2 separate regions of the Homo sapiens genome follow, and region 2 is linked to region 1. Evidence: fine-mapped expression QTL. Tissue or cell type: whole blood. Region 1 holds a variant in brackets; the other region holds the start of a gene. All regions are shown on one strand. Distances are between the middles of the regions.

Evidence for each region. PIP is the estimated chance that this variant, and not a neighbour inherited with it, causes the effect.
Region 2: MFSD6 starts here. The variant in region 1 is fine-mapped to the expression of MFSD6 in whole blood (INTERVAL, PIP above 0.99).

Annotation. Positions count from the first base shown.
Region 1 is chr2:190,470,619-190,478,725 of GRCh38, reverse strand. All of the region lies in intron 4 of MFSD6 (major facilitator superfamily domain containing 6), which reads right to left. It also overlaps a transcript of NEMP2 not described here. Among named protein-coding and RNA genes, the nearest start is that of NEMP2, 60 kb to the left of the region's middle. The variant C/G (reference allele first, on the strand shown) is at 3,929.
Region 2 is chr2:190,403,353-190,411,459 of GRCh38, reverse strand. It overlaps MFSD6 (major facilitator superfamily domain containing 6), which reads right to left and starts at 3,105. Exons shown (of 8, transcript NM_017694.4): 1 at 2,957-3,105. RefSeq lists a silencer at 2,485-3,524 and an enhancer at 3,785-3,834.

The DNA.
Region 1 (8,107 bases):
CCCTTCCCCAGACTAGGTCTTTGGCAATCAACAAGTAACATTTCCAGTCAAGGAATTAAGGGCTATATATTGTGAGAGTGGGCTTGTCCTCCAATGAAATCATTCAGTGATTTGTTTTAATCATGTCCTGCCTTACTGCATCCTAAATAGAGTCTCCTTTAAGCACACGGACTTTAAAGCCATTTGGACGAGCCTTGTAAAGGCAGACGAATCCAAACTAGCAAAACAAACCTCTTCAGTCAGAAATGTATTTCTGTGATGCAGGATTTTATTCCACATGAATAATCTACTGTTTTCCATGGGGTGGGCATGGGTCAAACAAAGGCAAGGGATTTTGATTTTGTTGTGCAGTCAAAATACTCAGCACTCACTTCTGCCAGGGAATGAAACCATCTCCTCCAGCATTAGAAACAAAGAGCTCTGTGGAAACTGGCCACAGAGCCCTCTGTTGCACTAGGAGGCTGTATTTACAGATCCTCTTCCCTGGCTTCAGACCAGTAGCTAGGTTTCTACTGGCATAAGGGAGAATAAAATGAAACACAGAAGTATGTATCGTAGCCTGCCCTAGGAAGCAGAATTCCTGTTTAGATTCAGAACATGGCCAGCTCCCTAAATCCTGGGATAATATCCCTGAGGTGCATACAAGTATTATAAAAACATGTCCTGGGTTGGCAGCTTGAGATGATAAATGCTTCAAGCCCTAGCCCCGGCACACCACTTATGCTCCCTGAAGAGGCCATTCTGTTCTCTTCTGTGCCTTCGCACACAGCTCTTCCCCCATGCTGGAATGCCTACTCTCTTTAGACCACCTGGTAGATTCCTATTCGCCCTTCAGAATCTAGCTTATGTGATTTTTGTAGGGAATTTTTCAATACAGTCTTCATCCTCCCACTCCCTGCTTCACAAAGTTAATTATTCTCCTTAGGGTAAGCTCCTTATCTGCTACCTAGCACATTTTTCTATGATTCCATCTAACATGCTGTATAGTTATTATGTGTTTACACATCTGGCTTCCAGAACAGTTGGTGAGACCTTGTGGCCTGAGTTAATATATGTATATATTTTATTACATTCTCAGCACCCAGCATGCTGCCTGGCTCTTAGTCACCATTTAATATATCTTTAATAAATTAACAGGAAAATGCATTTTTAAATTCACACAGCATTTGTTTTTTCCTCTTATAAAATTATTCTGTTGTTCTTTAACCGTTTCATGGATGTTCTCTTTTCTTGGGTCACTTATGGAAACCGTCCTTTTCCACCTAACTCATTTTAAACTAAAAGGATAAAAAAGTTATATGCATGTATTATTATAATATATAGTCATTTCTTTTCTGTAGGTATACAAATCTTTATTTATAGAGTCTGCACACTGTAGCATACCAATAAATAAAGCAATTAAGCCAGGTCAGGATAGAACAGGAACCAGAGGTGGGAAATCCTAAGAACTGTGTTGCATATTACCTTGTTATTGAATCATTCTTACCTGCAGTTCCTGTTTAATGCATTGTTATTATTATTATTATACTTTAAGTTTTAGGGTACATGTGCACAACGTGCAGGTTTGTTACATATGTATACATGTGCCATATTGGTGTGCTGCACCCATTAACTCGTCATTTAACATTAGGTATATCTCCTAATGCTATCCCTCCCCCCTCCCCCCACCCCACAAGAGTCCCCAGTGTGTGATGTTCCCCTTCCTGTGTCCATGTGTTCACATTGTTCAATTCCCACCTATGAGTGAGAACATGCGGTGTTTGGTTTTTTGTCCTTACAATAGTTTGCTGAGAATGATGGTTTCCAGCTTCATCCATGTCCCTACAAAGGACATGAACTCATCATTTTTTATGGCTGCATAGTACTCCATGGTGTATATGTGCCACATTTTCTTAATCCAGTCTATCACTGTTGGACATATGGGTTGGTTCCAAGTCTTTGCTATTGTGAATAGTGCTGCAATAAACATATGTGTGCATGTGTCTTTATAGCAGCATGATTTATAATCCTTTGGGTATATACCCAGTAATGAGATTGCTGGATCAAATGGTATTTCTAGTTCTAGATCCCTGAGGAATCGCCACACTGACTTCCACAATGGTTGAATTAGTTTACAGTCCCACCAACAGTGTAAAAGTGTTCCTATTTCTCCACATCCTCTCCAGCACCTGTTGTTCCCTGACTTTTTAATGATTGCCATTCTAATTGGTATGAGATGGTATCTCATTGTGGTTTTGATTTGCATTTCTCTGATGGCCAGTGATGATGAGCATTTTTTCATGTGTCTGTTGGCTGCATAAATGTCTTCTTTTGAGAAGAGTCTGTTCATATCCTTTGCCCACTTGTTGATGGGGTTGTTTTTTTCTTATAAATTTGTTTGAGTTCTTTGTAGATTCTGGATATTAGCCCTTTGTCAGATGAGTAGATTGCAAAAATTTTCTCCCATTCTGTAGGTTGCCTGTTCACTCTGATGGTAGTTTCTTTTGCTGTGCAGAAGCTCTTTAATTAGATCCCATTTGTCAATTTTGGCTTTTGTTGCCATTGCTTTTGGTGTTTTAGACATGAAGTCCTTGCCCATGCCTATGTCCTGAATGGTATTGCCTAGGTTTTCTTCTAGGGTTTTTATGGTTTTAGGTCTAACATTTAAGTCTTTAATCCATCTTGAATTAATTTCTGTATAAGGTGTAAGGAAGGGATCCAGTTTCAGCTTTCTATATATGGCTAGCCAGTTTTCTCAGCACCATTTATTAAATAGGGAATCCTTTCCCTATTTCTTGTTTTTGTCAGGTTTGTCAAAGATCAGATAGTTGTAGATATGTGGCATTATTTCTGAGGGCTCTGTTCTGTTCCATTGGTCTATATCTCTGTTTTGGTACCAGTACCATGCTGTTTTGGTTACTGTAGGCTTGTAGTATAGTTTGAAGTCAGGTAGTGTGATGCCTCCAGCTTTGTTCTTTTGGCTTAGGATTCACTTGGCAATGCGGGCTCTTTTTTGGTTCCGTATGAACTTTAAAGTAGTTTTTTCCAATTCTGTGAAGAAAGTCATTGGTAGCTTCATGGGGATGGCATTGAATCTATAAATTACCTTGGGCAGTATGGCCATTTTCACGATATTGATTCTTCCTATCCATGAGCATGGAATGTTCTTCCATTTGTTTGTATCCTCTTTTATTTCATTGAGCAGTGGTTTGTAGTTCTCCTTGAAGAGGTCCTTCATATCCCTTATAAGTTGGATTCCTAGGTATTTTATTCTCTTTGAAGCAATTGTGAATGGGAGTTCACTCATGATTTGGGTGTTTGGCTGTTACTGGTATATAAGAATGCTTGTGATTTTTGCACATTGATTTTGTATCCTGAGACTTTGCTGAAGTTGCCTATCAGCTTAAGGAGATTTTGGGCTGAGACGATGGGGTTTTCTAGATATACAATCATGTCATCTGCAAACAGGGATAATTTGACTTCCTCTTTTCCTAATTGAATACCCTTTATTTCCTTCTCCTGCCTGATTGCCCTGGCCAGAACTTCCAACACTATGTTGAATAGGAGTGGTGAGAGAGGGCATCCCTGTCTTGTGTCAGTTTTCAAAGGGAATGCTTCCAGTTTTTGCCCATTCAGTATGATATTGGCTGTGGGTTTGTCATAGATAGCTCTTATTATTTTGAGATATGTCCCATCAATACCTAATTTATTGAGAGTTTTTAGCATGAAGGGTTGTTGAATTTTGCAAAGGCTTTTCTGCATCTATTGAGATAATCATGTGATTTTTGTCTTTGGTTCTGTTTATATGCTGGATTACATTTATTGATTTGCATATGTTGAACCAGCCTTGCATCCCAGGGATGAAGCCCACTTGATCATGGTGGATAAGCTTTTTGATGTGCTGCTGGATTCGGTTTGCCAGTATTTTATTGAGGATTTTTGCATCTAT[C/G]TTCATCAGGAATATTGGTCTAAAATTCTCTTTTTTGGTTGTGTCTGTGCCAGGCTTTGGTATCAGGATGATGCTGGCCTCATAAAATGAGTTAGGGAGGATTCCCTCTTTTTCTCTTGATTGGAATAGTTTCAGAAGGAATGGTACCAGCTCCTCCTTGTACCTCTGGTCGAATTCAGCTGTGAATCCATCTGGTCCTGGACTTTTTTTGGTTGGTAAGCTATTAATTATTGCCTCAATTTCAGAGCCTTTTATTGGTCTATTCAGAGATTCAACTTCTTCCTGGTTTAGTCTTGGGAGGTTGTTTGTGTCAAGGAATTTATCCATTTCTTCTAGATTTTCTAGTTTATTTGCATAGAGGTGTTTATAGTATTCTCTGATGGTAGTTTGTATTTCTGTGGGATCGGTGGTGATATCCCCTTTATCATTTTTTATTGCGTCTATTTGATTCTTTAATCTTTTCTTCTTTATTAGTCTTGCTAGCGGTCTATCAATTTTGTTGATCTTTTCAAAAAACCAGCTCCTGGATTCATTGATTTTTTGAAGGGTTTTTTGTGTCTCTATTTCCTTCAGTTCTGCTCTGATCTTAGTTATTTCTTGCCTTCTGCTAGCTTTTGAATGTGTTTGCTCTTGCTTCTCTAGTTCTTTTAATTGTGATGTTAGGGCGTCAATTTTGGATCTTTCCTGCTTTCTCTTGTGGGCATTTAGTGCTATAAATTTCCCTCTACACACTGCTTTGACTGTGTCCCAGAGATTCTGGTACATTGTGTCTTTGTTCTCGTTGGTTTCAAAGAGCATCTTTATTTCTGCCTTCATTTCCTTATGTACCCAGTAGTCATTCAGGAGTAGGTTGTTCAGTTTCCATGTACTTGAGCAGTTTTGAGTGAGTTTCTTAATCCTGAGTTCTAGTTTGATTGCACTGTGGTCTGAGAGACAGTTTGTTATAATTTCTGTTCTTTTACATTTGCTGAGGAGTGCTTTACTTCCAACTATGTGGTCAATTTTGGAATAGGTGTGGTGCTGAAAAGAATGTATATTCTGTTGATTTGGGGTGGAGAGTTCTGTAGATGTCTATTAGGTCCACTCAGGAAAGCTGAGTTCAATTCCTGGATATCCTTACTGACTTTCTGTCTCGTTGATCTGTCTAATGTTGACAGTGGGGTGTTAAAGTCTCCAATTATTATTGTGTGGGAGTCTAAGTCTCTTTGTAGGTCTCTAAGGACTTGCTTTATGAATCTGGGTGCTCCTGTATTGGGTGCATATATATTTAGGATAGTTAGCTCTTCTTGTTGAATTGATCCCTTTACCATTATGTAATGGCCTTCTTTGTCTCTTCTGATGTTTGTTTTATCAGAGACCAGGATTGCAACCCCTGCCTTTTTTTGTTTTCCATTTGCTTGGTAGATCTTCCTCCATCCCTTTATTTTGAGCCTATGTGTGTTTCTGCACGTGAGATGGGTTTCCTGAATACAGCACACTGATGGGTTTTGACTCTTTATCCAATTTGCCAGTCTGTGTCTTTTAATTGGAGCATTTAGCCCATTTATATTTAAGGTTAATATTGTTATGTGTGAATTTGATCCTGTCATTATGATGTTAGCTGGTGATTTTGCTTGTTGGTTGATGCAGTTTCTTCCTAGCCTCGATGGTCTTTACAATTTGGCATGTTTTTGCAGTAGCTGGTACCGGTTGTTCCTTTCCATGTTTAGTGCTTCCTTCAGGAGCTCTTTTAGGGCAGGTCTGGTGGTGACAAAATCTCTCAGCATTTGCTTGTCTGTAAAGTATTTTATTTCTCCTTCACTTATAAAGCTTAGTTTGGCTGGATATGAAATTCTGGGTTGAAAATTCTTTCCTTTAAGAATGTTGAATATTGGCCCCCACTCTCTTCTGGCTTGTAGAGTTTCTGCCCAGAGATCACCTGTTAATCTGATGGGCTTCCCTTTGTGGGTAACCCGACCTTTCTCTCTGGCTGCCCTTAACATTTTTTCCTTCATTTCAACTTTGGTGAATCTGACAATTATGTGTCTTGGAGTTGCTCTTCTCGAGGAGTATCTTTGTGGCTTCTCTATATTTCCTGAATTTGAATGTTGGCCTGCCTTGCTAGATTGGGGAAGTTCTCCTGGATAATATCCTGCAGAGTGTTTTCCAACTTGGTTCCATTCTCCCTGTCACTTTCAGGTACACCAATCAGATGTAGATTTGGTCTTTTCACATACTCCCATATTTCTTGGAGGCTTTGTTCGTTTCTTTTTATTCTTTTTTCTCTAAACTTCTTTTCTCACTTCATTTCATTCATTTGATCTTCCATCACTGATACCCTTTCTTCCAGATGATCAAATCAGCTACTAAGGCTTGTGCATTTGTCACCTATTTCTCGTGCCGTGGTTTTCAGCTCCATCAGGTCCTTTAAGGACTTCTCTGCATTGGTTATTGTAGTTAGCCATTCATCTAATCTTTTTTCAAGGTTTTTAACTTCTTTGCCATGGGTTTGAACTTCTTCCTTTAGCTCGGAGTAGTTTGATCGTCTGAAGCCTTCTCTCAACTCATCAAAGTCATTCTCTGTCCAGCTTTGTTCCATTGCTAGTGAGGAGCTGCGTTTCTTTGGAGGAGGAGAGGTGCTCTGATTTTTAGAATTTTCAGTTTTTCTGCTCTGTTTTTTCCCCATCTTTGTGGTTTTAACTACCTTTGGTCTTTGATGATGGTGACGTACAGATGGGGTTTTGGTGTGGATATCCTTTCTGTTTGTTAGTTTTCCTTCTAACAGTCAGGAGCCTCAGCTGCAGGTCTGTTGGAGTTTGCTGGAGGTCCACTCCAGACCCTGTTTGCCTGGGTATCAGCAGTGAAAGCTGCAGAACAGCGGATATTGGTGAACAGCAAATATTGCTGCCTGATCGTTCCTCTGGAAGTTTTGTCTCAGAGGGGTACCCGGCCGTATGAGTTATCAGTCTGCCCCTACTGGGGGGTGCCTCCCAGTTAGGCTACTTGCGGGTCAGGGACCCACTTGAGGAGGCAGTCTGTCTGTTCTCAGATCTCAAGCTGCGTCCTGGGAGAACTACTGTCTTCAAAGCTGTCAGACAGGGACATTTAAGTCTGCAGAGGTTTCTGCTGCCTTTTGTTTGGCTATGCTCTGCCCCCAGAGGTGGAGTTTACTGAGGCAGGCAGGCCTCCTTGAGCTGTGGTGGGCTCCACCCAGTTCAAGCTTCCCAGCCGCTGCTTTGTTTACCTACTCAAGCCTCAGCAATGGCGGGTGCCCCTCCCCCAGCCTCACTGCCGCCTTGCAGTTTGATCTCAGACTGCTGTGCTAGCAATGAGGGAGGCTCCGTGGGCGTAGGACCCTCCAAGCCAGGTGCGGGATATAATCTCCTAGTGTGCCGTTTGCTAAGACTGTTGGAAAAGCACAGTATTAGGGTGGGAGTGACCCAATTTTCCAGGTGCCATCTCTCACCCCTTTCCTCGGCTAGGAAAGGGAATTCCCTGACCCCTTGTGCTTCCTGGGTGAGGTGATGCCTCGCCCTGCTTCAGCTCACGCTCACCGCGCTGCACCCACTATCCTGCACCCACTGCCTGACAATCCCCAGTGAGATGAACCCGGTACCTCAGTTGGAAATGCAGAAATCAGTAGTCTTCTGTGTCACTTACGCTGAGACCTGTAGACTGGAGCTGTTCCTATTCGGCCATCTTGGCTCCACCCTCCTGTTATTCTTAAATGACACAAAACTGAGATGTGTGCCTCCCCTCAAGACCCTTCCAGAGTTCTAATTATTAGAAACAATAATTTCTTATTATTAAAGACCAAGTTTCCATTTTCTATATATTTGTAAACAGAATCTCCTTTTACTAGCTACACCATTGCATCAAATCTGAGAAAAGCATCTTAAAGTATATATATATATACTTGAATTTTATAATTATAATGTGAATATAAATTATATCTCCTTTCAATTAGGATAAGTTCTTTTTTCATTGCTATGATGAATTTGATGAATGAGCTGGCATTTTGTACATTCTGTTTAGATGTATAATTATGAATCTTTCATTTTAAAAGACTGAAATTCTCAATCTTTCATCATGACAATTAATCACATTGATTACACCGCATTTGTCTCCTTAGGGTAAGGGAAAATGATAATGGCAATCTATAAAGCTAATGAAATCGTATATAATCAAATCACAGACTGT
Region 2 (8,107 bases), 67 kb after region 1:
TCGGCTGGGCGCAGTGGCTCATGCCTGTAATCCCAGCACTTTGGGAGGCCTAGGCAGGGGAATCATGAGGTCAGGAGATGGAGACCATCCTGGCCAACATGATGAAACCCCGTCTCTACTAAAAAAATAAAAATTAGCTGAGCCTGGTGGCATGTGCCTGTAATCCCAGCTACTCGGGAGGCTGAGGCAGGAGAATAGTTTGAACCCAGGAGGCAGAGGTTGCAGTAGGCCGAGATCGAGCCACTGCACTCCAGCCTGGTGACAGAGCGAGACTCTGTCTGAAAAAAAAAAAAAAAAACTACTGTCAACAGTTTGGGGACAAAAAGGCGTATGTGTGCCTGTATGCAGGTTTAAACAAATGTATATAAATTTCTTCTGAAGCTAGTTTTTTTTTTTCTTTTTTTTGAGATAGAGTCTCGCTCTGTTGCCCAGGCTGGAGTGCAGTGGCGCGATCTCGGCTCACTGCAACCTCCACCTCCCGGATTCAAGCAATTCTCTACCTCAGCCCCCTGAGTAGCTGGGATTCCAGGCGCCCGCCACCACGCTCAGCTAATTTTTGTATTTTTATTACAGGTGGGATTTCACCATCTTGGCCAGGCTGGTCTTGAACTCCTGACTTCGTGATCCACCTGCCTCGGCCTCCCAAAGTGCTGGGATTACAGGCATGAGCCACCTTGCCCAGCCATTTTTTTCATTTAATATACAGCATCTTGATTTTTCAGCCAATGTGCAAAATAGCTAGCAGACACACATTTTTTGCATTTCTTCCTTTCCCTATAATGAGATTGCCAAATTAAGATTTGCTGTCAAAGGAAGTAAAACAAAGAAACCTGTCAGCTTCATACTGCCTTCAATCTACAACTGGTGAGGACAAAAGGGTAAACATACACACATTAATATACATACGTAATAAATATATAAATTATCCTACATGGCTAAATGTTAACATAAGTAATACATGTACATTGAAATCAAGTTAATTTTCAAAGGCACGAAGCTAAGGAAGACATCTGCGTAGGTGGAGAGACTTAATAGGTTCTGATTAGGGAGGGACACCATGTGGAAATTTCCTGGGCTTTGGAGCCAGAAACATGAGGTCAAATTTAACTCTACCTCTTACTGATTATGTGGTTTGTGTAAGTTGCTTAACCCTTCTGAGCTTCCTTTTTGTCATGCACAGAACTAGGGGAAAGATTTATCTTACAGAGATTGAGATACTAAATGTTTACAATGGTGTCTTGAACATAATAAGTACCCAAAAAAATGCCTTAATACTGTTAATAGTCCAGACACTATATATGATGGAATTGGTGATCCAATACTCACACCACCAAATACCTGTGAACTCTGCTTTTTGTCTTTGTGTTTTATTTGCCTTCACGCTTTTATATTTATTTGTATAGAGATGGAAAGTGCCTTAGAAATAAACTGCTGTAAACATGAAGGACACACAACTACTTAGTAGCTTTAATGCATTATTGAAGTGATGTTCTCTCCTCCTGTTTCCCCAGAGCATCCTGCACTGGGCTCATTAACAATGTCCCATCCTTCCCCTAAGCAATCCTAAATTTTACTTACACCTCGTGATAAATACAAGCCATCTGACTATCACTAAACAGCTGACCATATCCTGCACCTCTGCTAGCAGCTTGACGTGTCAAAAGCCAAGCTTCCCAAAGAGGAGGATCCTATCCTTTTACTTAACAAGGCTAAAACAGATGCATACACTTTTAGCTGGCTAGTGCCCACATCTTGGGGAAAGGACCTACCAAGTACACATCTCCTTTTATTACATATTTTAGTCAACTGTATGTCCACCCACCCTTCACATTCATCTATACTTAAGAGGTTAGATTTCTAGAAAATCATGGACTTCTAGAAGGATTAGGGGAAATTTTGGCCACTATAATATCCAACCATCCTCTTTTCCATGTGAGAAAACTGGGGCTCAGGAAGATGTGACATGCCCAAGCACACACATCTATTTAAATACCAGTTGGGATTAGAACCCCAACTCTTTAAGTCTTTTGCACACTAATAAGCAAGGTATTATATGTTCCAGTAGTTCTGTGAGGTGCTTATTCAATCTTTTTGGGATGAAAAGAAACGTCCGTGGTTGCGAATGCATAAAGGTAATTAACCCACCTGTCTGTCCATGTGGGGATGGGATTAACGAGGGGGAAAGTTGCGTTTGTATTTTTCCACCATCTTACCTAAATTTGCAGGAAAATTGCTCTATGGGCAATAAATATGACCCAGAAAGACTAGCAACCCCCAGTAGTATCTCAAAAGGGCTCCAGAGACATGTTAGACCAAGTGGAAGTAAAGCACGAGGTGGGGGATGTCTGCTAGGATGGTGGCTGGCAGAGCAGAGGTATTTTTTTTTCCGTATTTATTAACCTGGGAGGGCAGACGTTGTCAATTTCCTCCTCCTGCCACACAAGTGGCCGCGTCCTTGTCACTGGGGCTGTGTGGAGGTTCTCACCTCCTCCTTTTTCCCAGGGATGTTTATGGCGAGGGCGCGGGTCGGCCCGGGCGGAGGAGGACCCGGGCATCGGCGCTCACCCTCCGTCCCCACCCGCGGCAGCAGCTGTGGGCGCCCGGCGAGGGCTCCCTGGGCAGCGCCTTTGTTTTCCCGACTCCAGTTACGTTTGCGGAAGTGCTGCCAGCACGGGGCGCGCTGGGGGCGCAGGCGGCAGCCTCCCCCAGCACCCCACAAAGATGACACCCGACACGGAAGCCGGGGGAGGGAGGGAGGGAGGGAGCGGCGGGCGAGCGAGGCCCGAGCGGAGACAGCGGCGCACGCTGGGCTCCGAGCCCCGGCCCCGAAGCCCCTTTCCCGGCAGCAGGTGTGCGCGGCTGAGGTGCCTACCCGCCCTCCGGCTGGGCCCGTGCGGGGCGGGGGAGGCCAGGGCGGGTCTGCGAGCCCCTTCTCCGCAAGCCGGGCCCGACTCACCTGCTGCGGCGGCGGCAGCGCTCAGCTGCGCGGGGCGCGGGGAGCCCTGTCCCCGGAGCACGGGGCGGCGGCTCGGGGCGCCGGGGCGGCGGCTGTCGGGGCAGCGCGCACCATCCCGGGCTGCTCGCGCGCTCCTCCGGGGCTGCGACGGGCTGGGCGGGGCGCGGCGAGGCGAGGCGAGGGATGCGGACCGGGTGGGGCCACGGAGGACGGAGGCGGAGGGCCCAGCGCTCCCGCCGGCGCGACCTTCTCTCCCGCTGCGGCTCCTCCTCCTCCCCGGCCCCGGCCTCACAGTCGCCGCCGCCGGTCACTACCGGCTGGACCCGTTTCAGGGCCGGGCGCTGAGGACCGGCCGCCAGGTGCAGCGCTCCGCCTCCTGCGGCGGCGGCGGATGCGTCGACTGCCCGCTCCCGGCCTCCAGCCCGCCCCGGCGGCCCGGAGGGACACCTGAACCCAGCCGGGCCCGGGGAGCACGCTGAGGAGGCGAAAGCACTGGGCGAGGCTCCATCCCTACCGCACCCTCCACCCCCCCGCACCCCCAAGCGACTTCCGCTGAGCCCCCAGGCAATGAGTGCGGGCCAGGAAATGTGGGGGAAAATGTACTAACATCCCTTATTCCTTGAGCGCCTTTTAAGTGGCACACACAATGCTAATGCTGTCAGTGCGTTATCTCCGCGTCTGTCCCAGGTTGACCCGGGAGGGAGGAGCCGGCGGGGTGCGGGAGACAAACGATCTGTGAGTTTCGGGGCTCACCAAGAAGGGGGAACACTGAGACGAAGGCACCCTTTTTCAGGAAGCTGCTACTGGCATCTTGCTGAAAAGCCAACCGTGTGTGTCGCACTAAGAATATAATTAAAGTTGTATTTCTAGTTAAACACGCAGAGAGTTGGGGGAGAGTGGAGTATTCACTTGGCAAGTATGTCTGTGTGCCTGTGATGGGCTTTGGGGGATGCCACATCCTGTTCTTAAGGAGTTTATTGTCTTGTTCTGGCAACAACGACAAGAGTGACAATGGTAGCTAACGGCAACAACGACAAGAGTGACAATGGTAGCTAACGCTTATAAACATCGATTATGTACGGGGCACTGTGTAGGTACTCTTTGAGCCTTATAACCCTATAGGTGTAGGAAACGTTATTCCCATTTTACAACTGAGGAAAGCCGAGGCTGAAAGTTAATGTGACCCATCCAAAGTTACTAAACAGCGAAAGGGAAAGCAGGCTTCTTTTGTCTCCAGGCTTTAAGCTCTTAACCGTGAAATCATACTGGTAAGAATTTGATAGGCCCTGAAGTTTCTGAATTTTGAGTCCCTCTTTAGGAAGAATAAAACAATTACAAATACGAAGTTTCTAGGGCCCCTTCCTGAGCTTATGAAGGGTCTCTGAAGCTTAAACTATAGTAGCCTCATGCTAAATCCACTTTCAATATTGACGTAGATATTCAATCATTTCTTTCTCCAGGCATTTCTTTCTCCTGTCAGGAACACGAGACACTGGTCCCCTCCTTGAAACTCTTCCCTTCTCTTCTTTTGGTGCTCCGTAAGTGTTGGATTTTCCTCCTTGAAACTCTCCCCTCCTCTGCCTTCTGTGACCCACAAGTCTTGGGTTTTCCTCTTCCTCTCTGGCCACTCCCCTTTGCTCCACTTGAGTTTTAGTTTTCCTTGGGTTTTGTTCTAGGCTTTCCTTTCTTCTGATTCTGTTTGTTTCTGCGAATTCTCTCACTCCTTGGCTTCAATCACAGAATATTTGAGGGTGCTCCAAAAGCCCTCTCTCGGGGTCAGCTTTTCTCCTGAGGGCCAGATCCTTATGGCCAGTTGTCCAGTGGGATGTGTCACAGGCACCCCAACCTCACTAAGTGCCACGTCAATGTTTCTTTACCTTCTGTTCTTCCCCTACTCGTTTTTTTTTTTTAAGATGGAGTCTCACTCTGTCGCCCAGGCCGGATTGCAGTGGCGTGATCTCAGCTCACTGCAACCTCTGCCTCCCGGGTTCAAGTGATTCTCCTACCTCAGCCTCCTGAATAGCTGGGATTACAGGCATGTGCCACCATGTCTGGCTAATTTTTGTATTTTTAGTAGAGATGGGGTCTCACCGTGTTGGCCAAGCTGGTCTCAAACTCCTGACCTCAAATGATCCCCCCACTTCAGCCTCCCAAAGTACTGGGATTACAGGTGTGAGCCACTGCACCCGGCCCCTCATTCACTCTTGCTTCTGGGTTCCCAGACTCTGGGGTCCCAAACAGCCATCCACCCAGTTGTACAAGGCCCTTCTTCTCAATGCTCCTTTCACCCTTATACCCATGCCCAGTGTATTAGTTACCTATTGCTGCTGTAACAAGTTATCGTAAACTTTGTGGATTAAAACACACATTTATTATCTTACGATTCTGGAGGTCAAGAGTCCAAAATGGGTTTTAGTGAACTAAAACCAAGGTGACTACAAGGCTGTATTCTTTCTGTAGGCTGTAGAGAATAACCCATTTCTTTTACCTTTTCCACTTCTAGGGGCTGCTCACATACTTTGGCTCATGGACCCTTCCTCCATCTTCAAAGCACACCACTCTAACCTCAGCCACAATCCTCACATTGCCTTTTCTGACTCTGACCCTCATTACATTGGGTTCACCTTCATCATCTAGCGTAATCTCCTCCTTTCAAGAATCTTAATCCCATCATCAAAGTCCCTTTTACCATGAAGCATATTCACAGGCTCCTGGGATTGAGACATGGACATCTACAGCGGGCCATGACTCTGTCTATGACATCCAGTCAGATGCCAAACTCTTGATTCTACCTTTTCAAATATCTCTAGCACCTGTCCTCTTCTCTCCATCCCTGTGCTATCCTAATCTCTGTTATCTCTCCTTTGCCTGCAAAATTTCTCTGGTCTCTCTGCCTCAAAATGTTCTCTCATCCAATCAACTTTTCACTTTGCCACCAAAGTAATCTGTTTTCTTTTCTTTTCTTTTCGACAGGATCTTGCTCTGTCACTCAGGCTGGAGTGCAGTGGTGTGATCATAGCTTACTGTAACCTCGAACTCCTGGGCTCAAGGGATCCTCACACCTCAGCCTCCCAGGTAGCTGGGACTACAGGTGCATACCACCATACCCAGCCAATTTTTAATTTTTTTTGTACAGGTGGAGTCTCACTATGTTTTAGGAGAGGAGCAATGTTGGCTGGTTGCACAGCTAGGAGGTACAATACAATGTGAAGGGTGCCTCATGGTGTTGCACAATCCTATGAGACAGCAAAGAAATTACATGGTAAGGTGTTTGTAAAGATTCTTTTGGTGTTGGGCGTAGTGGCTCATGCGTGTAATCCCAACACTTTGGGAGGCCAAGGTGGGCGAATCACTTGAGCCCAGGAGTTTGAGACTAACCTGGGCAACATGGCAAACCTCATCTCTCAAAAAGTACAAAGATTAGCCAGGTGTGGTGGCATGCCTATAGTCCCAGCTACTAGGGAGGCTAAGGTAGGAAGATTGACAGAGCCCGAGAGGTCAATCTCCCAACCTTAGCAGTGAGCCATGATTACACCTCTGTACCCCAACCTGGGTGACAGAGTGAGACCCTGTCTCAAAGAAAAAAAAAAAAAAGTAACTGTAACCAGTAGCAAGGAGAAAGGTTAACAGTGGCATGGACCACAGTGGTAGTGGCTGGGATGGAGAGAAACAGATAGATTTGAGAGTTTGGGGAAGTATATGAGCATACTTGGTGATATGTTGCATGTGGGAGGCAAGGGAAAGGAGGTGTTAAGAATGACTCACAGGTTTCTGGCTTGAGCAACTAGGGAAGATTGTGATAACCTTTACTGAGAGGGAGGAGACTGTGGGAGGAGCAGGCTGGAAGGAAAAAAGGAAGAATTCACATTTGACTCAGTGAGTTTGAGATGCTTGTGAGCCTTGCAGGTGGAGCTGTGAAGTAGGCAATTAAACTTGAGTCCACAGCCCAGAAGAAAGGGCTGGATTTGGCAGTCATCAGTATTGAGGTACTATTTACAGTCATTGGACTGAAGGGGATTACTCAGGAAGAGAATAGACTCAGAGAGCCCAGAGAAGGGCCAACATTTACCAGTTGGTATAGGAGAGAAAACCAGGAAGGATCAGTCAGAAGTAGAAGGCAATTCAGGAGGATGTTGTCACTGAAGACTATAGAAGAGTTGTTTCAAGCAGGTGTAAGTGGTTTGCACTCTCTCTCTCCTCCATATCCTAGACAAAGCATTATGTCCTCCATAGACTGGCTTTATCGCCCCTCGGTGGCTTCGTTTACCATGTGCCTTCTCTATCATGGCATCTATCATATACTATTGTAATCATTTGTTTAACTTCTATGCTAGATTGCAAGCTCCTTAAAGACAGGGGGAAACACTATGTTGTTCAACATTTGTATTATTTAGCATGGACAGTAGTCCATTGGAACAGCCCACATACAGTGGTTTAAATTTTTTTAAAAAGTATGATTTTCCCTCATATAAAAGTTTAGGTAAACATATGTAACAAACCTGCACATCCTGCACATGTACCCTGGAACTTAAAAAATCATAAAATTAAAAAGTTTAGGTAAATAAGTGAGCCCATGGTGTTGGGACTCGAGATTTATGCTCTTTTGATCTTGTTGCTCTGTCATCAAAACCCAACATGGCTGCCCCAACTCTTACTCTCATGTGCACATTCCAGCCATTGCAAAAGGGAAAAGGGGAAGGGGAAGGCATTTTCCTTTCTTTTAAGAATATGGGCCGGGCGCAGTGGCTCATGCTTGTAATCCCAGCACTTTGGGAGGCCGAGACGGGTGGATCACCTGAGGTCAGGGGTTCAAGACCAGCCTGGCCAACGTGGTGAAAACCCGTCTCTACTAAAAATACAAAAAATTAGCCAAGCATGGTGCAATTGCCTGTAATCCCAGCTACTTGGGAGGCTGAGGCAGGAGAATCACTTGAACGCAGCAGGTGGAGGTTGCAATGAGCTGAGATCGCACCACTGCACTCTAGCCTTGGCAACAAGAGCGAAACTCCTTCTCAAAAAAAAAAAAAGAAGAAGAAAAAGAACATGACCAGAAGTTGTACATATGTACATATTACTCGTTTAAATTCCAGTAGCAGAACTTGCTCATATGACCACATCTATCTGCAAGGAAAGCTGAGAAATCTAGTCTTT